7 linked regions of the Homo sapiens genome follow. Changing the gene in region 1 together with any one later gene gives a genetic interaction. Each region holds a gene or a part of one and is shown in the gene's direction. Other genes may lie near its edges.

What was found.
Region 2: changes in LEO1 (region 1) and RPA3 together harm fitness more than expected from each alone (negative genetic interaction), as found in Homo sapiens cells (one large-scale study listed by BioGRID).
Region 3: changes in LEO1 (region 1) and DCTN4 together harm fitness more than expected from each alone (negative genetic interaction), as found in Homo sapiens cells (one large-scale study listed by BioGRID).
Region 4: changes in LEO1 (region 1) and PPWD1 together harm fitness more than expected from each alone (negative genetic interaction), as found in Homo sapiens cells (one large-scale study listed by BioGRID).
Region 5: changes in LEO1 (region 1) and OPA1 together harm fitness less than expected from each alone (positive genetic interaction), as found in Homo sapiens cells (one large-scale study listed by BioGRID).
Region 6: changes in LEO1 (region 1) and CCNK together harm fitness more than expected from each alone (negative genetic interaction), as found in Homo sapiens cells (one large-scale study listed by BioGRID).
Region 7: changes in LEO1 (region 1) and MRPL22 together harm fitness less than expected from each alone (positive genetic interaction), as found in Homo sapiens cells (one large-scale study listed by BioGRID).

The regions. Positions count from the first base shown.
Region 1 is NC_000015.10:51,936,977-51,941,208, reverse strand, and holds the end of LEO1 (RNA polymerase-associated protein LEO1), read left to right. Parts: intron 1-2,923; coding exon of another isoform or gene 2,924-2,948; coding exon 2,949-3,053; 3' UTR 3,054-3,184; downstream 3,185-4,232. UniProt on the Homo sapiens protein: Component of the PAF1 complex (PAF1C) which has multiple functions during transcription by RNA polymerase II and is implicated in regulation of development and maintenance of embryonic stem cell pluripotency.
Region 2 is NC_000007.14:7,635,657-7,639,224, reverse strand, and holds the end of RPA3 (replication protein A 14 kDa subunit), read left to right. Parts: intron 1-80; coding exon 81-155; intron 156-1,252; coding exon 1,253-1,361; intron 1,362-2,142; coding exon 2,143-2,225; 3' UTR 2,226-2,707; downstream 2,708-3,568. UniProt on the Homo sapiens protein: As part of the heterotrimeric replication protein A complex (RPA/RP-A), binds and stabilizes single-stranded DNA intermediates that form during DNA replication or upon DNA stress.
Region 3 is NC_000005.10:150,730,937-150,735,414, reverse strand, and holds part of DCTN4 (dynactin subunit 4), read left to right. Parts: intron 1-1,939; coding exon 1,940-2,047; intron 2,048-3,508; coding exon of another isoform or gene 3,509-3,529; intron 3,530-3,925; coding exon 3,926-3,999; intron 4,000-4,258; coding exon 4,259-4,371; intron 4,372-4,478. UniProt on the Homo sapiens protein: Part of the dynactin complex that activates the molecular motor dynein for ultra-processive transport along microtubules.
Region 4 is NC_000005.10:65,569,111-65,573,588, forward strand, and holds part of PPWD1 (peptidylprolyl isomerase domain and WD repeat-containing protein 1), read left to right. Parts: intron 1-521; coding exon 522-622; intron 623-767; coding exon 768-888; intron 889-2,728; coding exon 2,729-3,176; intron 3,177-4,478. UniProt on the Homo sapiens protein: PPIase that catalyzes the cis-trans isomerization of proline imidic peptide bonds in oligopeptides and may therefore assist protein folding. May be involved in pre-mRNA splicing.
Region 5 is NC_000003.12:193,612,730-193,617,207, forward strand, and holds part of OPA1 (dynamin-like GTPase OPA1, mitochondrial), read left to right. Parts: intron 1-1,993; coding exon 1,994-2,312; intron 2,313-2,944; coding exon 2,945-3,041; intron 3,042-4,448; coding exon 4,449-4,478. UniProt on the Homo sapiens protein: Dynamin-related GTPase that is essential for normal mitochondrial morphology by mediating fusion of the mitochondrial inner membranes, regulating cristae morphology and maintaining respiratory chain function.
Region 6 is NC_000014.9:99,494,165-99,498,642, forward strand, and holds part of CCNK (cyclin-K), read left to right. Parts: intron 1-1,333; coding exon 1,334-1,465; intron 1,466-4,478. UniProt on the Homo sapiens protein: Regulatory subunit of cyclin-dependent kinases that mediates activation of target kinases.
Region 7 is NC_000005.10:154,967,492-154,970,889, forward strand, and holds the end of MRPL22 (large ribosomal subunit protein uL22m), read left to right. Parts: 3' UTR 1-1,920; downstream 1,921-3,398.

The DNA.
Region 1 (4,232 bases):
AAAAATGAAGTCATCCTGAAGGATTCTCTCACCTTTCTAAGTCCTGGGAGTCTGAGGAACTATATACCTTTGCTCTGTGTGATGGCTGGCTGGCTGGCTTGCTTATTTATTTATTTATTTGTTTGTTTGTTTGTTTGAGATGGAGTCTTGCTCTGTTGCCCAGACTGGAGTGCAGCGCCGCGATCTCAGCTCACTGCAAACTCTGCCTCCTGGGTTCAAGTGATTCTCCTGCCTCAGCCTCCAAATCCATGCCTGGCTAATTTTTGTATTTTTAGTAGAGACAGGGTTTCACCATGTTGGCCAGGCAGGTCTCTAACTCCTGACCTCAAGTGATCTGCCCGCCTCAGCCTCCCAAAGTGCTAGGATTATAGGCACGAGCCACCACATACGGCCTTATTATTTATTTTATTAAAAATTTTTTTTTGTAGCAATTATAATTTTTTTTTTTGGTAAAGACAAAATGTCTTACCATGTTGCCCAGGTTGGTCTCACTCAAACTCCTGGCCTCAAGTGATCCTCCCACTTTGGCCTCCCAAAGCCCTGCGTTTACAGGTATGAGCCACTGCACCCATTCCCTTTGCTGTGTTTTTCTGTGCTTATGTGTAGCTGCCAGAGAAGTCAGTCCTTGGCAGGCCTTTTTTTTTTTTTGAGACGGAGTCTCGCTCTGTCGCCCAGGCTGGAGTGTGGTGGTGTGGTCTCAGCTCACTGCAACCTCCATCTCCCGGGTTTAAGCAATTCCCTTGCCTCAGCCTCCCAAGTAGCTGGGATTACAGGTGCCCGCCATCACGCCTGGCTAATTTTTTTGTAGTTTTAGTAGAGATGGGGTTTCACCATGTTGGCTGGGCTGGTCTTGAACTCCTGACCTCGTGATCTGCCCACCTCGGCCTCCCAAAGTGCTGGGATTACAGGCGTGAGCCACCACGCCCAACCTTTTTTTTTTTTTTTTTTTTTTTTGATACGGAGTCTCCCTCTGTCGCCCAGGCTGGAGAGCAGTGGTGTGATTTCTGCCCACTGCAACCTCCACCTCCTGGGTTCAAGTGATTCTCCTGCCTCAGCCTCCTGAGTAGCTGGGATTACAGGCATGCGCCACCACGCCTGGCTAATTTTTTGTATTTTTAGTAGAGACGGGGTTTCACTGTCTTGGTCAGGCTGGTTTCAAACTCCTGACCTCGTGATCTGCCCGCCTTGGCCTCCCAAAGTGCTGGGATTACAGGCGTGAGCCATCGCGCCCGGCCGGTCCTTGGCAGGCTTTCTAAAGCAGAATTTCACAGCTTCTTACTCCAGAGGATGGATTAGGACTGGTGCCAGTGAGACTTCTTTGGGAGAGCCCTGGCCATCTCCTGGCTGCTGCTGTCCAGGGGCCTTTAGGACAGGCTGTACCATCTTTTAGAATTACCATGCTAGTTCTTTTAGTGATTCAAATTTCATCTCATTAAAGGATTTTAGAGCTGAAAAGACAAACACACCAAGGCTCACTTTTGGAAGGTTACCAAAAAATAGTGATTGCATGTAAAACGTTTTAAGATTTTTCCTTTGGAAATTAAAAGACAAGTAGTGTGATTGAATGTGCTCTTTGCCTGTGGCGCTGGGAGTATTTGGGTTTGCTCTAGCCTGCAGAATAGAAAGGAGGGGCTCTTGTCCCTTCTTGGGGGCAGGGTCCATCTTTCAATATTGCTGTTTAGGTATTTCACTGCTGTCAGCTGGGAAGTAAATGGAGGAGGAGGACTTCTCTAAATACCTTACTGTGGATTCATAACTTCCCCCCTTTGAATTCTATGGCCTTTCAGGTCTGTGGGAATGTATTTGGGATAATAAGGCAGGAAACAAGTGTGAGATGCTATCTTGTCTGTCAGAGGGCCAGCCATGAGAACCATCAGAAAAAAGTGGGCATACCAGGTTGCATTCTCCATCTAGCAGCCTGTGGTCACAGCAGCAAGATGTCTGGCTTTCCCTAACTTCAACCTTCAAACCATTTGTTCATCCCATTTAATTTTTAATTTTTATTTATTTATTTATTTTTGAGACGGAGTCTTGCTTGCTCTGTTGCCCAGGCCGGAGTATAGTGGTGCGATCTCAGCTTACTGCAACCTTCGCCTCCTGGGTTCAAGTGATTCTCCTGCCTCAGTCTCTCGAGTAGCTGGGATTACAGGCGTGCGCCACCACACCTGGCTAATTTTTGTATTTTTAGTAGAGATGGAGTTTTGCCATGTTGGCCAGTCTGGTCTCAAACTCCTGACCTCAGGTGATCCACCCCCTTTGGCCTCCCAAAGTGCTGGGATTACAGGCATGAGCCATCATGCCCGGCCCATCCCATTTAGTGTCAGTTTGTTTTAATCAGTATTTGATATTTAGATACTGACATGTTCAAATTCTATCTATCTGTAAAAAATGTTTTTTAGGTAACTTCCTAAATTATTTGTTTCTGTTAGAACGTTTGTACAGAATGATTTTAAACAGAGGAAACTTGTTTATAGATGCCCTTTAATGTCATCAAATATTTTCTTAAAAACCTTTATGATGTTTTTAATGCATTGAAACAAATTGTTCCAAAAAAACCAAATCAACAGTCTTTAAAATACTGAATTTTAGATAATGAAAAGAAGTGAAATGCTGAGGAGGCAGAGAAAAAAAATTTGAGAAATTACCTGATCATGGTAAAAATATCCTGACAGGACCAGTGGTTAGACAGGCAGAACTTCCTCGGGAGAGCCCCGCCCCTTCTGTGGCAAATCCTGTCTCCAGTTTCCTGCACATCCTACTCTGTGTTCAAAGGTTTCCCTGTGAGAGATTAGTTCACAGTTGCTGACACCTCACAATCTCCCTCACAACCTGCAGGAACCGTTACTTTGAGTTGTCAGAGGGTCATTCAGCTCATAGCTACTTTTCATAAACCATCCTAAAAATGTTCTTTATTGACTTGTAGATTTGTAAAAATTGTATCTGTTTAGGAAGGTGAACCTTCCGGAAAGAGAAAAGCAGAAGATGATGATAAAGCAAATAAAAAGCATAAGAAGTATGTGATCAGCGATGAAGAGGAAGAAGATGATGATTGAAGTATGAAATATGAAAACATTTTATATATTTTATTGTACAGTTATAAATATGTAAACATGAGTTATTTTGATTGAAATGAATCGATTTGCTTTTGTGTAATTTTAATTGTAATAAAACAATTTAAAAGCAAGTCTCTATGTTTAAGAAATCTACTTTTCCGGCCAGGCGCGGTGGCTCATGCCTGTAATCCCAGCACTTCGGGAGGCCGAGGCAGGTGGATCACAAGGTCGTGGTGGCGGGTGCCTGTAGTCGCAGCTACTCGGGAGGCTGAGGCGGGGGAATTGGTTGAACCCAGGAGGCAGAGGTTGCAGTTAGCCGAGATCGCGCCACTGCACTCCAGCCTGGCGACAGAGCAAGACTCTGTCTCAAAAAAAAAAAAAAATCTACTTTTCCCAAAGCGAACTGATTTTGTTAATGCTTTAAACAAACAAAGTCTTAGGTCTCAGTGAATTCCTGCTGCTCTCTCAACCCCCTTCCTCTCATTCCCCACAAAGAAGCCTTCTGGGCCAGGCTGAGATTCTCTCACAATTCTGGAGACTTGGAGTCCAAAATCAAGGTGTGGGACGGCCATGCTGCCTCTGAAGATTCTTGACAGGGATCCTTCCTTGCCTCTCAGTTTCTGGTAGTTCCTGGTGATCTGTGGCTTTTGACAGTATGACTTCAGTCTCTGCCTCTGTCTTCACATGACCTTCCTTGTGTCTCTGTTCCGGGTCTCAGTATCTCCAGATCTCCCTCTGTTTGTAAGGACACTATTCATTGGATTTAACTCTAATCTGGTGTGATATCATTTTAACTAATTACATGTGCAAAATTCTCTGTTTCCATATAAGGTCACATACTGAAGTTGTGGGTAGACATGGATTCGGCGGGGGGTGGGGGGGTAGGTCACTATTTGATCCACAATGATAACGATGATATTGTTGTAATATAATTGTTAAAATATTGTATTCAAAATTAATGTCAAAAAATCCATAATGAACAAAATGTCAAAATTTTAAATAAAGATGGGATCTGGGCCGGGCGCAGCGGCTCATGCCTGTAATCCTAGCACTTTGGGATGCCAAGGTGGACATCACCTGAGGTCAGGAGATCGAGACCATCCTGGCTAACACGGTGAAACCCTGTCTCTACTAAAAATACAAAATTAGCCGGGCATGGTGGCGCGTGGCTGTAATCCT
Region 2 (3,568 bases), on another chromosome or scaffold:
AACTAAGGATCAATGTACTCATCTTTAGTCAAACTTTGTTGTTGTTTTAGTGAGATTTTAATTATATGTTTCGTTTTTAGATTCATCCCACCGGAAAAATGTTTATTCTTTCAGATGGAGAAGGAAAAAATGGAACCATCGAGTTGATGGAACCCGTATGTTTAAGTGTTAATAAGTCTCTTATATATTATAGTTAATTCTTCATCTTGATTTGGTTTGTTGCCGATGTTTCTAATTTTTGCAATGGATTTAAAAAGGATGAGCTGGTAAAACGTCCCTGGCTGTAAAATTTAATTCTTGTACTATTCTCTCATTATATTTCCTTTTACATTTTTAACCAATGATTTTTTGGGCGTCATGATTTTTGAACATATCCCATAAATGTTGGATAACAATTCTCATTCCTTATGAAAGACCATAAAATCACATAAGAAAAATTTACGTTGCTTTTTTCTTCCTCAAGAGGTTTTTTGTTTCGTTTTTGTTTTTTTGTTTTGAGACAGGGTCTCACTCTGTTACCCCGGGTGGAATGCAGTGGCACCATCATGGCGCACTGCAGCCTTAGCCTCCCAAGATCAAGTTGCTCCCATGTCAGCCTCCCCAGTAGCTGGGACTACAGGCATGCTTAACCATGCCTGGCTAATTTTTGTTTTGTTTTGTTTTGTTTTGTTTTGTTTTGTTTTTTGTAAAGATGGCATCTCCCTATGTTCCTCAGGCTGGTCTTGAACTCTCGGTCTCAAGCAATCCTCCTGCCTCGACCAGCCCCTCAAGAGTTTTCGATTTTATTTTATTTTCTATTTTTGTTCATATATTTCCAGTTTTTACTTATTTATGTTTGCATTTTATGTTTAACATACTTAAAACTTTTTTTGGTATTTTGTGAAGACAAATCCATATGCTGTTTGGTTAATGTATACAGAACACATTGTGAAATACAGATTATAGAAGATTCCTCTCATAGGATATTACTGCTTATAGAAATGCTGGACGTTTTCAATAGTGATTTTGTCTTTAACTTGAATTGTAGCTTTGGACTTGAAGCTACTGCTAAAGGTAGCAGGAATTTTAACATGCTGACAGTTAAGTACTCAAACATTTGTTAACAAGTTACATTTTAACTTTTACACTGGTAATTCTTAAAATTACTTTGTTACTTGAAGTGATAGATTAGTAACCTGTATAACAGTTTTCCAAAATAATTGTCAACTGAAAATGTGATATCACCAAATCGATGTCTTGTTCTGTGTCTTAGCTTGATGAAGAAATCTCTGGAATTGTGGAAGTGGTTGGAAGAGTAACCGCCAAGGCCACCATCTTGTGTACATCTTATGTCCAGTTTAAAGAAGATAGCCATCCTTTTGGTAAATAAAGCATTCTAGTATTGACTGGTTTTATGTAATTACATAACATACAGTTTTATATAACTGTATGTAATTACATAACATACAGTTTTATATAACTGTATGTAATTACATAACATACAGTTTTATATAACTGTATGTAATTACATAACATACAGTTTTATATAACTGTATGTAATTACATAACATACAGTTTTATATAACTATGTTTTAACATACATTTTGTATTACATACAAAATTGTATGTATTACATACAATTACATAACATAAACATACAGGAAAACAGTTTTATTTTTAGTTTGATATATATTGGTCTAGAGTTTTAGTACTGCCACATTTTCAATTTCTATAGAATTTTGTGATCGTAAAGGCAAATGGGGGTACATTTTGTTTTGGCCTGCTTTTAAGTAGTGCTTATATATGTAAGAAACTCAGTAAAGATTAATTAATGTTTGTTGAAAGATAATTTTTTTAAATATAACAAAAATAGTATTAGTTTTTTTGTTGTAATATCTGAATTGAAGGAATTGAATAATGCATAACACCCAAAACACTACCAGGCAGAAACTGCCTGTATAATGAACATCAAAATGGATGGTACTCCCATGTCTTTTTTTTGGTGCCACAGTTAAATACAAGAATCCATAATCCATATCTCCATTTTTAGAAACTCACTTCCAAAAGGGTGAGAAAAAGGAAATAGGTAAAAATATCTTAGATAATAATTGATGTTACAACTTTCCATTGTAGATTAAATGTTTGCTTAAATGTTTCTTTCAGATCTTGGACTTTACAATGAAGCTGTGAAAATTATCCATGACTTCCCTCAGTTTTATCCTTTAGGGATTGTGCAACATGATTGATCTTGATGGATTTTCATACGATTGTAAATGAGCTATATTAAAGTCTATTAAAGGAAGCCCTTCTTGTTTGAGGGAGAGATTTCTGTGCTTTCTCATATTTAATTTGCTGTTTTTAAGATATTCCAACCTAGAGTTTTTGATGGAACTGATATATTGACAGTTCTCACCGAAGTCCTTTTATAAAGAATTGCTACTCCAATATATGGTCAGATTAGATGCAAGAATAAAGCAGTTGTCCGAGTCTAAGTTTCTATTTTATTAATAAAAACTAAAATGGTACGTACTATCGGTCATTTCATTTTCATTCTTTTAATCATGTATTCAAGCACAAACTTGAAATTTCATAGCCATAAGGTCAAGATTTAGACCTACCAAATAAAACCTTGGGCCAGCTGTGTTAAGGATTTGCTCACCTTTTCCCAAACTATACCTTGATAATTATTTCCTTGATACCCTACTTACAAAATGAAGTAGATGACATTAAAAAGGCAAACAGAGACTGGCCACGCTGGCTTACTCCTGTAATCCCAGCACCTTGTGAGGCCGAGGCGGGTGGATCACCTAAGGTCAGGAGTTCGAGACCAGCCTCACCAATATGATGAAACCCTGTCTCTACTAAAAATACAAAAATTAGCCGGGCGTGGTGACATGCGCCTGTAATATCAGCTACTCAGGAGGCTGAGACAGGAGAATCACTTGAACCTGGGAGGCGGAGGTTGCGGTGAGCCAAGATTGCACCATTGCACTCCAGCCTAGGCAACAAGAGTGAAGCTCTGTCTCAAAAAAAGGCAAACAGAATCTTACATCTTCTGTAATCTGTGAAGTATCTCTTTTTCTGGCTTGGTTTGGTTTTGTTTTTGTAGAGACAGGATCTCACTCTATTGCCCAGGCTGGAATACGGTTGTGCAATCATAGCTCACTGCAGCCTTGAACCTCTGGGCTCAGTCTCCCAAGTAGCTCAGACTACAGGTGGGCACTACCACGCCCAGCTAGATTTTCCTAAATTTCCGTGTAGAGATGGGGTCTCACTGTGTTTCCCAGGCTGGACTCAAACACCTAGCCTCAAGCAATCCTACCGCCTTAGCCTCCCAAAGTGTTGGGATTACAGGTGTGTAACAACCATGCCCAGCCTTCCTGGGTTTTAAAATAGCATTTACTAAATTCCAAACAAGGAATATATGATCATTGAAAGAGTTGGTGGAATCATTTGACTTTCTTTTTATTCTTTTCACCTGTCTAATCTTTAGTATGGAATCTCTCTCTAGCACCATGTTGGGGGTGAGCAGGGAAGATGTGGCAGATTTGGAATAAGGTAGTATAGAATAACCGATGACCTACGTGGC
Region 3 (4,478 bases), on another chromosome or scaffold:
GTGGACTCTGTGAGGGTCCTTGGTTGTAGTTTGGTTTCGTATGCTAGTTTTCTTTAATGCTGGTTGTGCTAGCAGTGAATTGTCACGTGGACAGACTCAGGACCTCTGGTTAGCCAGGATGTCACAGGTGGTGGAATTAGCTGTTGTTTTCTCCTTTTGAGGGCAGGGTTGTTCTTTTATGAGTTGCTATAATGAGTTGGTTGGCCTCCAGCCAGGAGGTGGCGCTTTCAAGAAAGCATCAGCTGCAGTAGTGTGGTGGGGATACAAGCTTGCCCTAAGGTTGCCTGGATAAGTATTTGGGTTTCCCAGGTGATCAGTGGGGCCATAAAGCTCCCAAGAGTTTACAGTCTTTTGTCTTGGGCTACCAGGGCAGGTAGAGAAAGACCATCAGGTGGGGGCATATCTGAGCTCAGAATCTCCTTGGGCAGGGTTTGCTGCAGCTGCTGTGAAGGACAGTTGTGTGGTTCTCAGGCCAATGGAGTTATGTTCCCAGGGGGATTATGGCTGCCTCTGCTGTGTCATACTGGTGGCCAGGGAAGTAGGGGAAAGCCAGCAGTGACAGGCTTCACCCAGCTCCCATGCAGCCAGCAAGGCCAGTCTCACTCCCACCATGCCCCACCAACAGCATGGGGTTTGCAGGGCCAAGATTTTGGCCCAGGCTACAAGCCTACTTGCTGAAAAAGCAAGCTAGCCTTTTGGACTCCGCCCCTTCCCGACTGCTGTGGCTTATGTGCTCATATCTGTACTTCCCCTTTACGCCTTCCCCATCTTGATTGTGCCCAGGAAAATTTGCTCTCCGTCAAAGTTATTACAAAGTTCACCTGGAAGTTTCTGTCTCCAAGTGGTCCTTCCTCAGTTCCACTGGCAGCACTCCCCAAGGACCCCTGTGAGATTAAAGTCAGAAATGACTTCCCTGGGCTTCACTGGGAACCGGGAGTGCCTACAGGGCTCTTCCCGCTGTTGCTTCTTCTATTTTTATATTTCACTCGGCTCTCTAAATTTTGTTTCAGCACTAGGTAAGGTTAAATTTTTCTCCCATGATCTGGATTTTTAGGTTCTCCAGTGAGGATGTGTGTTTGAAGGTGGATTTTCCCCCTCTTACACATGGGCACTCACAGATTTTCTGCTGTCTCATGGATTTTGCAGCAGCAAGCCACTTCTTTTAAAGGGTCTGTGAATTCTTTCAGTTTTCCTAGTATGTTCCTGCAGTAGTTCTTGGAATAAAAATTCACAGTGTGAGTCTCCACATGTTGTTCTGTCTGTCTGAGGGGAAGCTGCAAGTTAGTCCTGCCTCCTATCTGCCATTTTTTTTTTGCCACCTCATCCTCTTGAGTAGCTGGGACTATAGGCATACACCACCATGCCCAGCTAATTTTTGCATTTTTTTATAGAGACAAGGTCTCACTCTGTTGTCCAGGCTGGTTTTGAACTCCTGGCCCCAAGTGATCTACCCACTTCAGCCTCCCAAAGTGCTGGAATTGTAGGCGTGAGCCACTGTGCCCATCCTGGTTTGAACTTTTTATGATTAATATGTATTGCTTTTATAATTAAAATGTATTTTAAAAATTAAAAAGTGTGATGGAGTTGGGGAATAAAATACAGTATAAAATGCTATGTTCTTAGAAATAAGTGGTCCTGTGGCCATGCAGAAAAAAAATAAGAGCAGTTGTGAGGGGAAATAAGTAATGAAGTTAGAGAGCAAAAAATTTCCAAGCCTCTTCATTGCCCATTTCTTCCCATCCTTGAACTTCAGTTTTCCATTTCACTTCGGAAAACAGATCACATAACGAAGAAAAATTATCTTAGAAGAAAAAGGGCAAACTTGCCCATCTTAATAATTTGTCTTCTCTATTCATTATGTGTCTAGTCAGTGTAGTTGATTAATTTGATATGTTTTCTGTTAGCTTTTTTGTGTACTGAGTCTGTGATTTTCTTACAGATGAACAAATTGATTGAATATTACCAGCAGCTTGCTCAGAAAGAGAAGGTTGAGCGAGATCGCAAGAAACTGGCACGACGTAGAAACTATATGCCTCTGGCTTTTTCGGTGAGAATTTGGTACTAAAATGATTTGCAAGACCTCTAAGGCCTAAGAACAGTGATCATTTCAGAAAATGGCCATTGTCCTAGATTCCTGAATGGTGGATATCAGAGAGAGGGATTCTTCAAATTATAGACGTTTAAGTCCAATAGTTAGGCTTTTGCTATATCATTAGTTCTGTTTGAGTTATTTGTGTTTTGAGGACATTTGTGTTTCTTTCTCCATCACTCCCCTTTATCTTCTGATTATTTCCCCAGAAAGGCTGTTAATTTTGTAGGCACTGCAGAGTTCCACGTACAGCTTTTGTGTATTACAGAAAGTCTGAGAAGAAGGAGGTGGGCAAATGGTAGATTTCAGTCATATTACCCCTGTAGCCCACCTTTGACATCCTGGCAGTAGTGGTTTCTCAGCTTTAGTTATAATTTTTTTAACATCCTCCCCTGTTTCTCCAAGATGAAAAACACTGACTTTTTACATAGTGCACTTGTGTGGTTAAATAGTAATATATGCAAGTAGAATTTTTGATAAGAATTATTTATGAGAGTCATTCTCTACCAGTTTACGTACTGCTAGTAAGAAGAAAGAAATTAGGATTTGGAATTTTTGTTATTTTACCCCGAGTTTTATTTGCTCTCATAGTACAGTTTGTTTTCTGTGTGCTTGCTTGGGGCCCAGCAAATTGACATTCAATAAATAACATTTATTGAATGGCAATGATGTGTCAAGCTCTGTGCTAAATAAACACTTTACATGTATTACTTTACTTAATCCTCACAAAAATCCTGTGGAGTATCATATCCCCATTTTACGCTTGAGGAAATGGGACCTAGTTAAGCAACTTGTCATACTGCATCCACATGAAAATTAGTTAAGTCATTGAAACCCTAAGGGTTGGTAAAGTCCATATAAAAATACCTAGATTAAGCTGGGTGCAGTGGCTCACGCCTGTAATCCCAGCACTTTGGGAGGCTGAGGCGGGGGGATCACTTGAGGTCAGGATTTCAAGACCAGTCTGGCCAACATGGCGAAACCCTGTCTCTACTAAAAATACAAAAAATTAGCTGGGCATGGTGGCGCACGCCTATAATCTCAGCTACTTGGGAGGCTGAGGCATGAGAATCGCTTGAACCCAGGAGGCGGAGGTTGCAGTGAGCCAAGATAGCGCCACTGCACTCCAGCCTGGGTGACGGAGTGAGACTCTGTCTCAAAAAAAATCTAGATTAGAATTTAAAAACATTAACACTTGCAAAGCACCTACATTTGCAAAAAGAAGTGAATTTTTCTGAATAGTCCAGTGGTATAGTCAGCATATGCACCAATGTGTGTTATATTTAGAGGTAGAATTTGAATTAAATGAATTATTCTTCCAATTTTCCCATATAACCTGCCTGCTATATGCGTTTGCTTCTATCTTATGCTGCATTTTTTGTCTCTGTTGCAACCTGCTGCTATTTTGGGGCTCTACAGCAACATACTATTCATGTAGTGGTAAGTTCTCCTTTATGATTCTTGCTGACCCTGAAGAAGTTAGCAGATGACCACTGGTGTTCCAGGAAGACGTCTGTTGTGTATCTTAGACACTCCACATAGTTCTTGCCTGAGCCGTAGCTTAGATACTTTTAGATTACTAGCAGAAGCTCACATTTGGTTCATTTTTACTGTATTAATATAGTTTCAATCTCCATGTTTAGTGCTGTTATTATTTTAAGAATAGAATAATGATGTGGGGCTACAAATTGCTTTCTTTAAAAGAAGCCTTTAGATTAGCTTTTTTTTTGCTTATTTCCCTGAGCTTCTCATGCTATCCTACCCAAAATTCTTTCTTTTGATAAATAGGGTGTGTAAAAGTGGACTTTCTAATAGGAATTTCTGAACTTTGTTTAGGACAAATATGGTCTTGGAACCAGGCTTCAGCGACCACGAGCTGGTGCATCCATCAGTACCCTTGCCGGACTTTCGTAAGTTTAGACATGAAATGACTTTGAGGAGAACAGCAGGTATCAAAATGAATATCAAATAAATGAGATTAAAACACACACACACACACAGTTGTCAATGGAAAAGAAGATTCTCATACTTAGAAAAGACCTACGCTATACAGATATTCTATGACAGAGGAATACTTCAATTATTGATATCATAGACTGAGGATAATCAGGTGGATCCGTGAGAAATTACTCTTTTGTTTTGTTTTGTTTTGTTTTTTTAATTTTTCAGCCTTAAAGAAGGAGAGGATCAGAAAGAGATAAAGATTGAGCCAGCTCAGGCTGTGGATGAAGTGGAACCTCTACCTGAAGACTATTATACAAGACCAGTAAATTTAACAGAGGGTAATTTTCTGTGTTTTTCTACTTTGTTTCTAGTCTACATCTAATTCTGTTTTTGTTATTTATGTACCTAGTGATTTGAGATTTTTAATGGAATAGCTGTTAGTAGT
Region 4 (4,478 bases), on another chromosome or scaffold:
GTTTCCATAAATGATTTCTATTTTTACATACCTAATAGGAAAGATTCTTCTGTACAAAATCTTTTTGATACTTAAGTAACCAAAATACCTTGTATAGGATATAAAAAAAACTTTTGTTGAATTTTGTTGCGTATGAAAGTAGTATGTTTAGATTTACTTATCAGCTACTGACAAATAGTTTATTTTCTTGTGAAAAGACTGTCTGTAGGGTAATTTTAGCAATAAGGAATCCAAAGTGTAGTGATTCCTAGTGAGATTTTTATTTTAATGTCAAATTCTAGTTCAATTCTGATCCTAGCTCTTGAGGTTAAAATTAGTACAGCTGTAACTGTTTTGACATCCAGAAAGGAGTTTCAAAATTTGCAGTGTTCTGTAATATAGTGGTCTGCTTAAAGAAGGGTTTTTTTTAAAAAAAAACCTATTATGCACAAGTCAGATTCTTAGTGAATGATTGCTTTGGGAATACTAAGTGATTCATAGATCTGTCTTAGAAATTAACTTTTAACATTTCATATATGCAGAACAGATTTTATTATTACTGCCAGTCATGATGGACATGTCAAGTTCTGGAAAAAAATAGAAGAGGGAATTGAATTTGTTAAACATTTTCGTAGTCACCTGGGTAAGAATTGCACCTCATTTTCTTGTAGCTCTTTCCTAAACTATACTAATTAAAGTTTAAATTTTTTAAATTTTTTTTCTTTGAATCATGCACACTTATTTTACTGTTATTTACTAGAATGTTTTAATTTCATTTATTGAAATAGGAGTTATTGAGAGTATTGCAGTTAGCTCTGAGGGAGCATTGTTCTGTTCTGTGGGTGATGATAAAGCAATGAAGGTGTTTGATGTAGTGAACTTTGACATGATCAACATGCTGAAACTTGGGTGAGTCTTTTTAAAAGTATATATATTTTAACTTATTGAAGTAATTTGTAAATCAGACTTTACCATTTAATAGGTTATTTCTAAATAGTATATTACCATATCTTTAAATAAAATGTGCTGTTGGGTTTTGCTTGGAAAATTAGATACAGTGAAGCCTTATAATGTTTGGAAGCATCTGCTATGATTTGTTATCAATCACAGAAATTTCTAAACAGCATCATAACAAGGATTCCTTATATCCAAATTGACATTACTTAGTAATATTACTGGAGCTCTGTCATATCTAATTACTGGTAGTTACAGTTAACTTCCTTGCTTTACTTATTTCAGTAATATAGAATTGAGTTCCTATAAGATTTATTCACATTTTTGGAATTAAAGCTATTTATTGGTGACTTTAAACTTTGGAATATATTGATACTAAAACTATGGTTAGATTGTACAGTATTAAGACTGATACTTTGTTTTAAGCATGTCTTTTTTAAGATAACATAGAATTTATACACATCTAAATGAATGTCAGCTTGAAAGTCATAACAGTGTCAGAAAGTTTTGGGACTCGCCTTAGTCTGCTTGGATGCCATAACAAAAAAACCATAGACTAGGTGACTTAAATACAGAAATCTATTTTCTCACAGTTCTGGAGGCTGGAAAGTCCAAGATCAAGGTTCCATCAGGGTTTGATTTCTGATGAGGGCTGTCTTTCTTACTTCTCCCTATGTTCTCCCATGGTTGGAGGAAGAAGGAAGGGAGAGGGAAGAAGGAAAGGGAGATCTTTTTTTCTTCTTATAAGGCTACAAGCCCATCAGATTAGGACCCCACCCTGACTCTTATGAGCTCATTAACCTTAATTACCTCCTGAAGACCATGTCTCTAGAAATTCCAACTGATGGAATTCCAACTGTGGGCTGAATTATGCCCACAATTCAAATAATTTCACATCTTAGAATTTCCTTCAAAATCAGTTTATGACTTTATGAGCCACTAAAGGAAATAAATCTCATTATTTATGGTTAGAATGGCACAAACATACCTGTCTTGATCACCTGTCCTACTCCCCAGGTTTGTTTCCTCAAAGCTTTCCATTCACAGATATTGAATGTTTGCCCTTTGAGAATACTTGGAAGAGTATATTTCAGACTTTGATAGAAATTCTTGAAGAAGAGGTCTGGAAGGTTTTGAACATCAGCACCGTGGTTAGAATAATAGTGTCACTTCTCCGAATCTCTACTTTGAAGGAAACAACATTCATTTTTGAGTGTTTTAGTACAATTGATTAGATCAGTCTGAATTCTGTTATGCCTTGTTCATCAGGTAGAATGTTTAAAGCTTTGAGTTTTAATATCAAGATTTAGTTAGTAATGAGAGTGTTTTAGGACAGTGTTTTTCTTTGACGTATTGTCATAATAAAATATTTGATTTAAATATTTCAAGAAAGGATTTATAAAATACACTATTACATGCTAATCTATTTTAAAGTAAGTTATACATAGACTGTTGTACAGAGATCCAAAAAGCAATGTCCCAGAAGATCTTAAGGTCCAGATCTGATTAGGTTTCCTTATCTGCCCAAGAGAAATAAGTGTGCTGCTATATGCAGTTCTTTTCTTATGTTTTGACAGATCCTTAGAACTATCATTATACTGATGAGGTCAGAAAGAGAAAAAATAAGTAACTATTCTTAGCTGTTCCTCCCCATTCTGTGTCTCTGCTACTTTTGAGCAAGGAATCCAAAACTGTCTAAATCACCAGCCAAGACATTTTTGGTAGTGGGATAGGGAGGGATGCTTGCTTGTTGTGCTGACCTTTTTTTTTCCCTCTCAATTCTTTACGATTTTAGCTATTTTCCTGGACAGTGTGAGTGGATCTATTGCCCAGGGGATGCAATTTCTTCAGTTGCTGCTTCCGAAAAGAGTACAGGAAAAATTTTCATTTATGATGGCCGAGGAGATAACCAGCCACTTCATATTTTTGACAAACTCCATACATCACCTCTTACTCAGATACGGCTAAACCCAGTTTACAAAGCAGTAGTGTCTTCTGACAAATCTGGGATGATTGAATACTGGACTGGGCCTCCTCATGAATATAAATTCCCCAAAAATGTGAACTGGGAATATAAAACTGACACTGATTTATATGAATTTGCCAAGTGTAAGGCTTATCCAACCAGCGTATGTTTTTCACCAGATGGGAAGAAAATAGCTACTATTGGTTCTGATAGAAAAGTTAGAATTTTCAGATTTGTAACTGGAAAACTCATGAGAGTCTTTGATGAATCACTAAGCGTAAGTGTAATTTAAATTTAACCGTACTTTACTTTTCTAAAAATGCTTTATTTTATGCCTTTTCTTGAAAGATCTTTTTTCTACAGATAGACATTTAGATAGACTTATTTTTTTCTTAGCACATTAGAGATATTCAACTGTTTCTGTCTTGTAGTGTTGCTCTTTGAAAGTCTCTTCTCTAGGGGTTTATGATGTGCGTTTTTCAAGTCAATTATTGTCTTATTTTTGTGGTTATTTTGTTTTTTACAATTTTGTTTTGTTTGCAAGCTGTTAAGATCCTCAAAACTCATTCTAGGACCCCTTATCTTCTCACTCTTTATTCACTCCTGTCCCTATGACTACTTCTAAATTTACTTCTCTAACCTTCTATTACAAGCAAACCTGGTGCTATCTCTTGTCCTGTCTTCATAAATGGTGCCAGTATCCATCTAGTTGCTCAAACCAGAAATCTAAGAGTTATCCTTAACTCTTTTACCCTTCTGTGTAATTCACTGGAGTCCTGCCAATTTTGCTTTCCAAATATACTTTAAATTCACCAATTTCTTTTCAGCACAGCTGTCACTAACCATAGTTCATGCTCTTTTGCCTGACCTATTACATGGCCTACTACCTGTATTTATTCTGGCTTCTTCCTAATATCCACTCTGCACCCAGGGCCATCTTTTACAAGCATATATCTGGTCATGTCATTCCTTTGCCTAGAACTTTTCAGTTAATTCCTTCTGTTCTTGGGATCAAGACCAGAGTCATGGCTTACCATGTTGTGATACCATAAGTCACCTTTCTCCCTGCCTTTTATTCTGCCATTTGGGTCTTCTTTTTATTTCTTGAACCTGCCTCCCACCACAGGACCTTTTTATAAGTTGTTTCCTCCACCTGGAGTGAGGCCCTCCCTCCTCATATTCCTCCATTACCTATTGAACTGGTACTTCAAATTTCAAATGAAGAGTCACTTCCCCTGGAAGGCTTTCACTAGTCATCCTGTCTTGCACAGTTTTTTTATTTTTTATTATTTATTTATTTAATTAATTTATTTTCTGAGACAGAGTTGCACTTGAGTGCAGTGGCATGATCCAGCTCACTGCAACCTCCGCCCCCTGGGTTCAAGCGATTCTCCTGTCTCAGCTTCCCAAGTAGCTGGGACTATAGGCGTGTGCCACCACACTTAGCTAATATATATATATATATATTTTTTTTTTATTAGAGATGGGTTTTTTTTAGTACAGATGGTTTTTTTTTTTTTTTTTTTTTTTTTTTTTTTTTTTTTAAGTACAGACGGGTTTCACCGTGTTAGCCAGGCTG
Region 5 (4,478 bases), on another chromosome or scaffold:
AGTCCCAGACTCCTTGGATTGAGATGATCCCATTATTAAATAAGGTACTTATCAGAGGTCTGAGGCCTCTAACTGAATCCAATCCAGTTAATTATCAAATCCAATTTGATCTTGGATCCAGTCCAGGCTAAGTATTGCTTGAGTAAACTCGGAGAGCTCAAAACACAAGTTAGTGGAGCTCGGAATCTGAGAGAAAACTCACCCATGACCTCCAGTTACAATCAAGAGACCAGTGAGAGCAACGGCCTCAGTGGGTACCTCACCAGGTCACCTGGTGTTCCAGGGGGTTGCCAGAGTTTTTCTTCAAATCCCACTTCTGACACCAGATCTGTTAAAAGAAAACTTCAGACAAGTTAAATTTGATGGAGTTTAATTAAGCAAGGAAAATAAACACTTTGCAAATCAGGCAGCCTCCAGAATTGAATGCAGTTTGAACACTTAGCAGTCTATTAGTGCTTGAAGTATGGCCACTGGGATTGGCCAACACTCAGCTATTATTACAGATGCATACTACTCAGGTTTTCCATTTTGTCTGCCTATTGTGCTAGGTTATGGTTTGTCCACAAGAACACAAATATAGAAGTATGGAGTCCTTCTCAGGCCATATTTAGTTTGCTTTAACAATACTTAAAAAAAAAATTTGTAAAATAAGGATACTTAACCTTACTCGGTGTTTCTGAGAGTTAACATTTATATAGTTATGCTGTAGTGAAAACAGCTAGCGTAATGTCTGGTATGTATAGGAACACAAGAGATACCGCTTTTCCCATATCCCCATACCATTCTTCACAGCATTGCTCCTGTCTTCCTTGATTCCTCCTCCTCCTTCTTTGTTTTTTTTTTGTTTGTTTGTTTGTTTTTTTTTGGAGGTGGAGTCTCACTCTGTTGCCCAGGCTGGAGTGCAGTGGTGTGATCTCAGCTTACTGCAACCTCTGCCTCCTGGGTTCAAGTGATTCTCCTGCCTCAGCCTCCTGAATAGCTGGGATTACAGGCACACACCAACACACTCAGCTAATTTTTGTATTTTTAGTAGGGATGGGGTTTCACCATGTTGGCCAGGCTGGTCTTGAACTCCTGACCTCAGGTGATTCACCCACCTCAGCCTCCCAAAGTGCTGGGATTACAGGTGTGAGCCACCACACCCTGCCTCCTTCTTAAGAAGTTTCCAGTCCCTTGTAATTAAAGGAATTAATATTTTTTAACTACTTAGAATCAGACTGGCCCTGATTATTAGTAAGCAACTAATAGTAAGCAAGCAACTATGTATGCAACTATGAGTGTATGTTAAGATATGGTTGTTGGTAACCTTTCATTCTCTTCAGGAAGAAGAAGAGGGTGGAGCTCTACAGTCAATGTGTACATTTAAATTCTGTTCCCTTTCGAGCTTTTTTGCTACTTTCATTCTTCTGGGGATCCAGGTGCTTGAGTTGGGATTGATTAACTTCCTTAATTTCCACCCCTGTGCTGTCAGGATCGGGAGACATAGATGAAGGTGTTCTAAACTGCTAGAAATTTTGTTTTTGAAAGCAAAAGTTTGCATGCATTTTTGTTTTCAACTTTTACTTACAGTGAATAGTAGTTAATAAAATAAGTCCCTGCCTTTTCTCTCTTTGGTTTCAATTCCTGAGACCAGGATCATAGCCCACATATTAGAGTGGAGTCCCACTGCTTTGGTTTGAATCATGCCTTTGTTTCTTATGTCAGTGTGACTTTGGGCAAGTTATTTAAGTCTTTGCACCACATTTTCCTCATCTGTAAAATGAGGATAATACTAGTACTTTCTACATGGGATTGTTAGCAGGATTAAATGAGATAGCACATACTGTAACCATGTCTGGCACATAGTCAATGGTTAGTAAATGTGAACTATTGTGTGACATTGTGGTTAGTCACGTATGGGGCTGTGTTTCCTTTAGTATATTGCTCTTTTAATGTCATTTCCTTTGTACTGTTACCCTCTCTGATCTTTCTTCCATATTCATTTTTCTTTCAGTGAGGTCTGCCAGTCTTTAGTGAAACACAGCTCTGGAATAAAAGGAAGTTTACCACTACAAAAACTACATCTGGTTTCACGAAGCATTTATCATTCACATCATCCTACCTTAAAGCTTCAACGACCCCAATTAAGGACATCCTTTCAGCAGTTCTCTTCTCTGACAAACCTTCCTTTACGTAAACTGAAATTCTCTCCAATTAAATATGGCTACCAGCCTCGCAGGAATTTTTGGCCAGCAAGATTAGCTACGAGACTCTTAAAACTTCGCTATCTCATACTAGGATCGGCTGTTGGGGGTGGCTACACAGCCAAAAAGGTGAACTTGACATTCCTCCTGGTTTTCCAATTATTATATCATGATTAAGTTTCTATAGCATAAATCATTTTTGTGTAGTGGAATACAATTGGATGTTTAAACATTTATTTTGTGTCTCTACCATGGACTAGATTGTTTTAATGATGCTAATAGGAAGATGCCTTTAGAATCTTAGTTATAATTACAGGAAATTAAAATGGCCTAGTGGAAGGAGCACAGGGCTGGGAATAGGAACACCTAGGTTTGATTTTGAGCTTAGACATTTAGTAGCACAGATGTGAAAGTCAGGTGGCATTCTCACACAAGCACTTCTTGGCAGGTCTGGGACCAGAGGCAAGGCGTCCTGTCTCCCAGTCTGTCTTCCTTCTACCCCACAGTAATATTTAGGGCAAAATTATGAAACCTGTTTGAAATAGGAGTATATTCTGAATTTTTACATTTTCCATATTTAACAGAGGAGTGTTAACTTGTTTTATATGCTTGTTTGCTGAGACCACTTAATTTTGTTTCTTAAAAGTTTTGAACATAATACATTATTCTTAGTAGATTAATGTGTTTTAATTAAATAATTTTTCTTTACATGTTTATTTGGCATGCAGAGCATCTGATTGACACACTTTCTTGTCTTTTAGACTTTTGATCAGTGGAAAGATATGATACCGGACCTTAGTGAATATAAATGGATTGTGCCTGACATTGTGTGGGAAATTGATGAGTATATCGATTTTGGTTTGTATCATGAACATTAAAATACTTTTTTTGGTCATCTCGAGGAAAGAGAAATAGTTTATTGAGATAGTTTCTTAACTTATGAACCTAATATATCACGGTTTTATTTTAATGATATAAGTAATAGAATATCAATGAAAAAATCTGTATAAAAGAAATACCCAGTAGCCCATAATTTTACCACAGCTGCCACTAACTGTTTGGAGCATTTTCTTTTAATTATACTTACTATATGTGGTTAGTATCTTTTTAACTTATCGATTGAGACAGGATCTTGCTCTGTCACTCAGGCTGAAGTGCGGTCTTGGAATCATAACTCACTGCAGCCCTGAACTGGCTAAAGTAGTCCTTCCGACTCTGCCTCCCAAGTAGCCGGGACTACATGTGTGTGCCACCATGCCCGACTGATTTTTTAATTTCTTGTAGAGATGAAGTCTCACTATGTTGCCCAGGCTAGTCTCAAATTCCTTAGCTCAAACCTCTCACCTCAGCCTCTCAAAGCACTGAGATTACAAGTGTGAGCCACTATGCCTGGCTTGAGTTTTTTTCTTTTAATTTTTTTCTTTTCATGAATACTACCACAGAATAGTATTTTAGTTCCCTTTTTAAAAATTATGTAATCATGGTGAATATTCACTTTGGTATTTTGTCTTTTGCTACCTAACATATTTTGTCAGCATTTCCATGCTGCCAAGTAGCCTTTCTATTAATAATATCATTTTCTGCATTATGTAATGTTGCCCAGAGCATATTTATTGTGACCCACCTAGCTAGCTCCTTTTGATTGGATACCTTGGTTATCTCTACCTTTTGTAGCCAAGTTCTTTAAAAGTCTGTTAGTATCCAGGGTAATTTCTTTTCTTAGTTGGCCACTGCCCTCCCTTTTTCAATAGGTGGATGAGAAAAAAGTATATTGGATCGCTATGATTGCCAGTAATTCATGGTGATCTTTAAGAAATATATTTTCATCAAATTTTTTTAAAACCTTTGTCAGATTTCTTAGTTTAGGTGTATGTGGAGGTGGAATTAATCTATACTTGCACTTATTCACAGAATTTATAAAGATAAAACTGTTCTATGTTGACGAATCCATTTGCAAAAAAAGCACACTTTCAAATTGTTCTTCTAATATTAATGAGGAGAGCTTTCAAATTGATGTATTTGCCAGTACCACAGCGTAGTGGCTGAGAGCCTGTATTCTGGAGCTGGACTGCCTGGGCTGGAACCCGGGCTCCTCCACTTCCTTGCTGTGTACCTTAGTTTCTCATCTGTAAATGGTGTTGATAATAGTAGCTGTTTTGTAGGGTTGTCATGAGGATTAAACAAGTTAATACTTTAGCCCTTTATAAGAATAGTATCTGACATATTTTCTTAGTTTCATACTCTATATGTTTTGATCTTTTCCAGAGAAAATTAGAAAAGCCCTTCCTAGTTCAG
Region 6 (4,478 bases), on another chromosome or scaffold:
TAAACGTACATAGGGCATAGCCATGCCGTGATGGGCTAGGTCAGTGGTCCAACAGAAGCTAGCATAAGCAGAGGCAGGGGGAACCATGTGACACATTGTCAGCCCAGCCAGGAGCTTGATTTGGCAGGAAGGAAATGATGAGACCCTGGGTGGATAGGTAGACTGGGTCAGACCACGATAAGCCTCGAATGCCAGACTTCAGAAATTTGGCTTCAGTGGGTGAACAATGCAGTAATTAAAAGGTTTCGTGAAAATGACAGACTTAACATTAAAGTCATTGTGTTGATTTGTTAGCTAAGATTTTAGTTAGATTTATATACATGCCTTCCTCACTGGTTGTGAAGTTCTTGAAGAAGGAGACCATGTTGGAATCAGTTTTGTACCCCCGGCAGAGTGTCTGACATCTAGTGTGATCAGGATTATGTGAGGAGAGTGGCATGTAGGAAGGATTGGAGTGGGCAAAGAGAAGCTGAAGACAGAGCAGTTCAGACCCCAGTGATATAGGGACTGAGCTAAGGTTGAGGCAACTGGAGGGACAGTTTCTTCATCCATTCAGGCTGCTATAACAATATGCCTTAGACCCAATAATTTACACACAACAGAAACTTAACTCTTCACAGTTGTAGAGACTGGGAGGTGTAAGATCAAGGTGCTGGCAGATTCTGTGTCTGGTAAGGGTTTGTTCCTCATAAAAGGGCTCCTTGCCGCATCCTCAAATGGTGGAAGGGAGGAACAAGCCCCTTGGGCCTCTTTTATAAGGGCAGTAATCCCATTCAGAATCATTTCCCAAAGGCCTCACTTCTTCATACCGCCACCTTGGGAATTAGGTCTCAAGCTATGAATTAGGACATAAACATTCAGACCATAGCAGAAAGAAAAGGAAGCATGGGCAGTGCTGAGATGGATTCCACAGGACTGTGCTAGAAGGAAAAGGAAGCATGGGCAGTGCTGCTGAGATGGATTCCGCGGGACTGTGTTTAGTTGTGCTCTTTCTTTTTCCACGGCAAAGCTTGCTGTTTAGGGAGTTAATTTCAGATTGGAATATGAGAAGAAAATTTATTTATGTGACTCTTTTCCTTTTTGGCATTTTCTTTGTTTACATGACTTTTTTTTTAAGAAAGTTAAATTTTAAATAATTTATGAAGCTAGAGTTTGGGGGATTTATATGTATAAAATTTCCTTCAAGCTTCTAGAGTATCGGAGTATTTGTGAATGATAAAAAGAAAGGTAGGGGAATGAGGAAGACCAGTTTATTACGAAGGCCAAAATTTATTGTATCTATTTCTGTGTGACCTTTGATAACAAAAATCAAGAACTTTTGTTTCCCTTTTAGGTGACAGGAGCCTGTTGCCTCTTTCTGGCTGGGAAAGTAGAAGAAACACCAAAAAAATGTAAAGATATCATCAAAACAGCTCGTAGTTTATTAAATGATGTACAATTTGGCCAGTTTGGAGATGACCCAAAGGTAAGAATGATAATAACTTCCTGCCTTCTGGTCTTGATTCCTTATGGTAGTATTGTACAGTTCCACATGTTGACAGTGCCTGTAGCCCTTGTGTCTGCCAGTCTCTTGAGTTCCTAAGAGGGCCTTCTGTAGAAGTTACTTGATGCTTTTGTAAGAAAGGAGGGAAGATCGTGTAGCCTACACTTACTCAGTGCTTCCTTATGTGCCCAGCAGTATTCTAAGTACTTTGGGGCAGTGGCACATTTCATGGATATGAGCAAAAATCCTCTTAATTGCCATTAGGACTCTGCTTCTTAAGTGCAGTGGTGATGGCAGGGTTACAACTCCAGCTAGCTTCTGGGTCAAACAAAAGTATGTATGCTGTATGTACACATACACATGCCTACATATGCCATGTGTCTTTTGCTTCTAAAGAATGTTGGAAGGTATCAACATTTGCAGCATTTTTATGCACCCAGAGCTTGATACTGGTCACACCAGCCATCCTATCTTTTCCATACAGCTCACGCCAGTGTCAGCAAGTGGTGCTCAAATAATTGTACATATTTTGTTGTGTTTTTAAAATACCACTTTTAGGGACCCATGGCAGTGTTCCTCCACTCCCATTCGCATCAAGTTCCCCTTGTTGCAACCTCAGTAACACCTGTTAATTATCCTTCATAACATTTATCACAGTTTGCAATTAAATAGATTTTCAAAAATACTTTAGGCCAAGCCGGGCAGATTGCTTGAGCCCAGGAATTCAAGACCAGCCTAGCCAACATAGCGAAACCCCATCTCTACTATATAAGAATAAACTGGCCAGGCGTGGTGGCTCACGCCTGTAATCCCAGCACTTTGGGAGGCTGAGGCGGGCGGATCACGAGGTCAGGAGATCGAGACCATCCTGGCTAACATGGTGAAACCCCGTCTCTACTAAAAATACAAAAAATTAACCGGGCGTGGTGGTGGGTGCCTGTAGTCCCAGCTACTCGGGAGGTTGAGGCAGGAGAATGGCATGAACCCGGGAGGCGGAGCTTGCAGTGAGCCGAGATGGCACCACTACCCTCCAGCCTGGGCGACGGAGCAAAACTCCATCTCAAAAAAAAATAAATAAACTAATATTACTTTAAAAAAAAAAAACCTTTATTATTTTTTGCTGGGCATGGTGGCACGCACCTGTAGTCCCATCTACTTGGGAGGCTGAGGCAGGAGAATTGCTTAAGCCTGGGAGGCAGAGGTTGCAGTGAGCCAAGATTGCGCTACTGCACTCCAGCCAGGACGAGAAAGCAAGACTCCACCTCAAGAAAAAAAAAAAATGCTTTTTTTTTTTTTAGAGCAGTTTTATGTTCACAGCAAAAATGAGTGGAAAGTACAGAGATTTCCCATATACCCCCCACCCAACACATGCACAGCTTCCCCCATTTTCAGCATCCCCCCGACCAAAGTGGTACATTTGCTATGACTGATGAGCCTGCATTGACACATCACCCAGAGTCCAAACTTTACATTAGGGTTCATTCTCAGTGTTGTACATTCTGTGGGTTTGGACATACGTATAGTAACATGTAGCCACCATTATAGTATCATGTAGTCTATTTTCATAGCCTTAAAAATTCTCTGTGCTCCACCTGTTTGTCTCCTTCTCCCCGCTAACCTCTGGCAACCACTGATATTTTTACTGTCTCTATAGTTTCACCATTTCCAGAATGTCATCGAATTGGAATCATATAGGATGTAGCTTTTTCAGATTGGTCTCTTTCACTTAGTGGTGTGCATTTAGATAGTAGTATCCATTAGATGATTTTTATCAAATTATCACACACATAACTCCCTCCCCTTCTCAGCTGTAAGATGCATGAAAGCAAAGACTATCTGTTTTGTCTAATGCCTCATTCAGTGGCAGGACAGAGTAGGCATTCAGCAAGTACTCGTGGAATAAATGTCAAACTAATGGTCTGAGGAAATTTCTAAATCACAGTTAAAGCTAAAGCGATGAAGTTCAGCCCCATTCATGGTGTTGTTTTTCCTAACTAGCTTGTATTGTCTCACAATAGTTATCTTTTTCTCTGCCAAGCATTATGTATGTATATACAAAATGTATAGTCATTCTCCTCATTGCTTTGAGGAGTTAACAAGGGCCCAGAACACTTTTATACATATTGTGGTTGTGATTAACACTAGTATTTTCTAAGTATTGCCAATGTGGGTAACTCTTTTGAACTTAATTATAAATCCATTAATCTGTTTATAAACATTTGAACCTATTAGGAACTCATATTAACTATAACCAAAAATGCAGTTTTATAGAAATAATTTCACCATCAGATAATGTTTTCAATGTGCATGGGTATTTGATTTTTACTGAGTAGTGGGGCCCTGTGTCCTAACGTGATAAGTCTGATTGTAGGAACATGCTGTGGTTCAGTCACACCCCCGTCACAGGGGCAGGTGAACCTTGTGGCTGGCAAGCTGTGCTTAAGGATAAGGCATCACACAGATCTGGGACCACAGCAGGGCATGGACTCGTGGCAGCTGCTGGTTTGTGCCATCCCAGGGTGCCTTGGAGAAGCCCCCTTTACTTTTAGCCTTTACCCACTGTACCATGAAGTCAGGAAACCAAGCCCCAGTCCAGGAACAGTGAAAGTAGAAGTTCTGAAGCTCCTGTGCCCCAGAAAATGGGAAAAGAGGGGTCACCATACCAATTAGGTCTGAATGGGGGAGGGGGCTTTGCAACCTGCCCCCTGCCTCTCTATCTCGCGCAGTCTTCCCTGGTCGGAGTCGGGGCCAAAGGAAAACACCTGGAGCTGGGAGCAGTGAAGACATTGGGGAAGATGTTTTCCTCTGCAGACAGGAGGGCAATTCTTTAGTGGAGGCAGTATAAGTATTTAGGAAAAATAAGATCATGAGTCCCATGGAACATTTTTTGCCTTAATTAGCTTTATTTTAATTGTGTGGCTTTTCTCTGTAATATTCGTTTCAGCCTTTGTGTTGGGCACTAGACATGAGGCACGAGGCAGAACAGACATGGTCT
Region 7 (3,398 bases), on another chromosome or scaffold:
AAGCAAAGCCTGTTTTTATTTCTTCTTCCAACAGTGCTTTATATTGTTTGGATATCTTGTTTAGGATTGATTTATTTTTCAGGGTAAATTCAATTACTGAGAGAGGAATTGAACCAATCTCAGCATTGCATTCTAAAATGGGGCAGTAGGTGGCACTCAACCTTTTATTAGCAGAAAATTGTTAGTTTCAAATTAGAGTGTTCAACACTGCTTCCCTCTCATTCATACACGTCTTCATTAAGAAGAAGTACTCTTTGTCTACAGCCCTAGTCCAACTTTTGCATGCAAAAGAAGAATCGAGGATGCTTGCTTGTTAATGCAGACTTCTGGGCCCCACCCCAATGATTCAATTCACTAGGTCTTATGGGGGGCTGGTTTCAGAAATCTATGTTTTAAACAAACACTTCCAGGTAATTCTGTTGTAGGGGACTACGCTTTGAGAATACGGCTTTAGGAGAATGAAAAAATGTAGTTTTATTGCCATGTTTTAAGATGGCATTAATAATAGTTACTGTTTACTGGGAACTTGTTATTTGCAAGCTCTGTGCTAGTATTTTACATAATTCTTCACAACATCCTGAAAATGTAGCTTTTGTTTTACCACTTTACAAAGGAATAAACCGAAGCACACAGAATTCAAATAACTATCACAAGTCACACAGCATGTAAATATTGGGGCTATGATTGAAAGGTTTCTAAAGTAGCTGGTTCTGCATACCTTTTGAGTATACAGCTGGGTTTTTGTGTCTCTCCAGTTAACCTAATGCATGGGTAAAAAGACATCAGGGGTCAGTGGAATAAACCAAGGTGTAGGACAGATTCATTCTGGGTCCTAAGCTGTTGTAGCATGGAGTCAGGGAAATAACACTGGAATATTAAAAGGTAACCTTCATTCTAGTCTGTGCATTCTCATTAGCCAGAAAGAAGACTGGATAGGTCTCTTCCCTTGCTGGCCTCCATTTCATTCATTTATGAAACAAGAGACTCAATGTTCTCTGTAGAAAACCTTTTTTAGAATCACTTGAAGAATTTGTTTAAAAATGCAAATTCCTGGGCTCTACTCTCAGACTAAGTGAATCAGAAGCTTTGGTGTGGGAGACCATGGAACCTGCAGTTTTAATAAATGCCCCAGTGATTTGCATGTTGGAGAATTATCACACCAGGTCACTGTGCTCTCATGTGGTGGGGATGCTCCACGATTGCTCTTGGAGTTGTGACTTCCTTGGGTGTGACTAAAGCCAGGTGGTGCCATGGACATCATAAATATAAATTATGTAAGTGAAGGCACTGCTTCAGTCAGGCTGTAAAAGCTATTTTGAAAGTGGTAAGGAAAAAGTAGGATTGTAATGAAGAAAATTTCCTTCCCAGGTTAAGCCTTCATTTGGAACTGCTTCCAGTACGTTACAAAAAGTAATAATAGCTAACCTGTGTCACTGACTGTATCTGGTACTATTTTAAGCACTATATATACATTATCTCAATGAATCTTTCCCATTGTGACATCCGGCTAGTTTTCGTGGCTAAGAGTGTACTTTCTAACATCCATGAACATTGTGGTCCCCACCTGAAGTTTCACTTTGCATGTTCAGTGATATGGTTTGGCTCTGTGTTCCCACCCAATCTTATCTCAAATTGTAATCCCCATGTGTCCAGGGAGGGACCTGTAATCCCCACCTAGTGACGGAGGGAGGTGATTGATGATGGGTGTGGTGTACCCCATGCTGTTCTCGTGATAGTGAGTGGGTTCTCATGAGATCTGATGGTTTTATAAGTGTTTGAAAGTTCCCTCTTCACTCGCTGTCTTGCCTGCTGCCATGTAAAATGTGCCTACTTCACCCTCTGCCATGATTGTAAGTTTCCTGAGGCCTCCCCAGCCATGCAGAACTTTGACACAATTAAATGTCTTTTCTTTATAAATTACCCAATCTTGGGTATTCTTTATAGTGGTGTGAAAATGGACTAATACATTCAGAAGCCATTATCTGTTATTCTTTAATGGCAATCTCTGAATGCTTGTACTTTCCTTCTTTTCCAAAGAATTACTGTAGACCCAAATTTTCATCATTTGAGTGTAGCACATTCAGAAAGTACACCAATTGCAAGTATACAGCACAAATTATGATCAGCTGATGAACATGTACAAATAACCCCCATTAAGACAAGAAATAGAACATAAATAGCAACCCTGAAGCCCCTACCTGCACCCCCGGTCACTACCCCATCTCTCTTCTCAAAAAGTAATCATGATAGATTAAAAAAAAAAAAGGTCAGCTTTTGTTTTTTCAACTCTAATTTATTGGGCAACTATTATATACATGGTACTGAAGATACAGGCAGTGAACATAGTAAATATGGCCCCTGCCTGAAAGAGCTGACTGATGGGAAAGACAACTGTACATCTATCATTGAAAGTATTTATTGTGGATTCAGAGGGACAGGGGGCTCTGAAAAATAGTTACTGCTTCTTTGGGGGTTTACTTAAAGAGATACAGTCAGGAGAAAGGGTAAAAACAAATACATGGTTCAGTAAAAAGCTATGATATCAAAATGTCAACTTAAGGGATTTTATTTTATTCTTACTATTTTAGAGACAGGGTCTTGATCTGTTGCCCAGGCTGGAGTGCAGTGACACGATCATGGCTCAGTTTAGCCTCAGCCTCCCAGGCTCAGGTGATCCTCCCACCTCAGTCTCCCAAGTAGCTGGGAGAATAGGTGTGCACCACCACACATGGCTAGTTTTTGTATTTTTGTAGAGATGGGGTTTTGCCATGTTGCCCTGGCTGGTCTCAAACTCCTGGGCTCAAGTGATCCTCCCACCTCGGCCTCCCAAAGTGCCGGGATTATAGGTGTGAGCCACTGCACCAGCCTATTACAAATACTTTGAATGAAAGCAAGGAAATATTGGTAGATGAATTATACTTGTGCACTAAAATAAAATTTTTAAAAATATCCAATAGGGACTTGAATGATTATTTTCACATATGGCCCAAGGAGGCTCATACAAATTCTACTTTGGAAAGGAAGGAATGGCAATATTAATTTCAAAGTGCAATTTAAGGAAGAAGTTAAATGACCCTAAAAAGGTTGTTTACACATGCAGTCAATTTGAGAAAATGTACAAGTCTTCTGAAGAGCATTTGTAAATTGCATGTGTCCACAGTGGACCCCAATATAAGAAATACTGATTTAAATGGTTTTTCTATTTGACTGTTTATCTAAATGGTCACAGTTCTTTACTCTTTTCATATATTGATGCTCTTTGCAATGTGACTTTGTATCTCCTCTTATTAAGAGGTGGAGTCTTTGAATCTGGGCTGGCTTTGTGACTTCTTTGGCCAACAGAAAGTAGCAGAAGTGAGAGTTTTCCAGTTTTCAGTCTAGGCCTCAGAGGTCTTGTT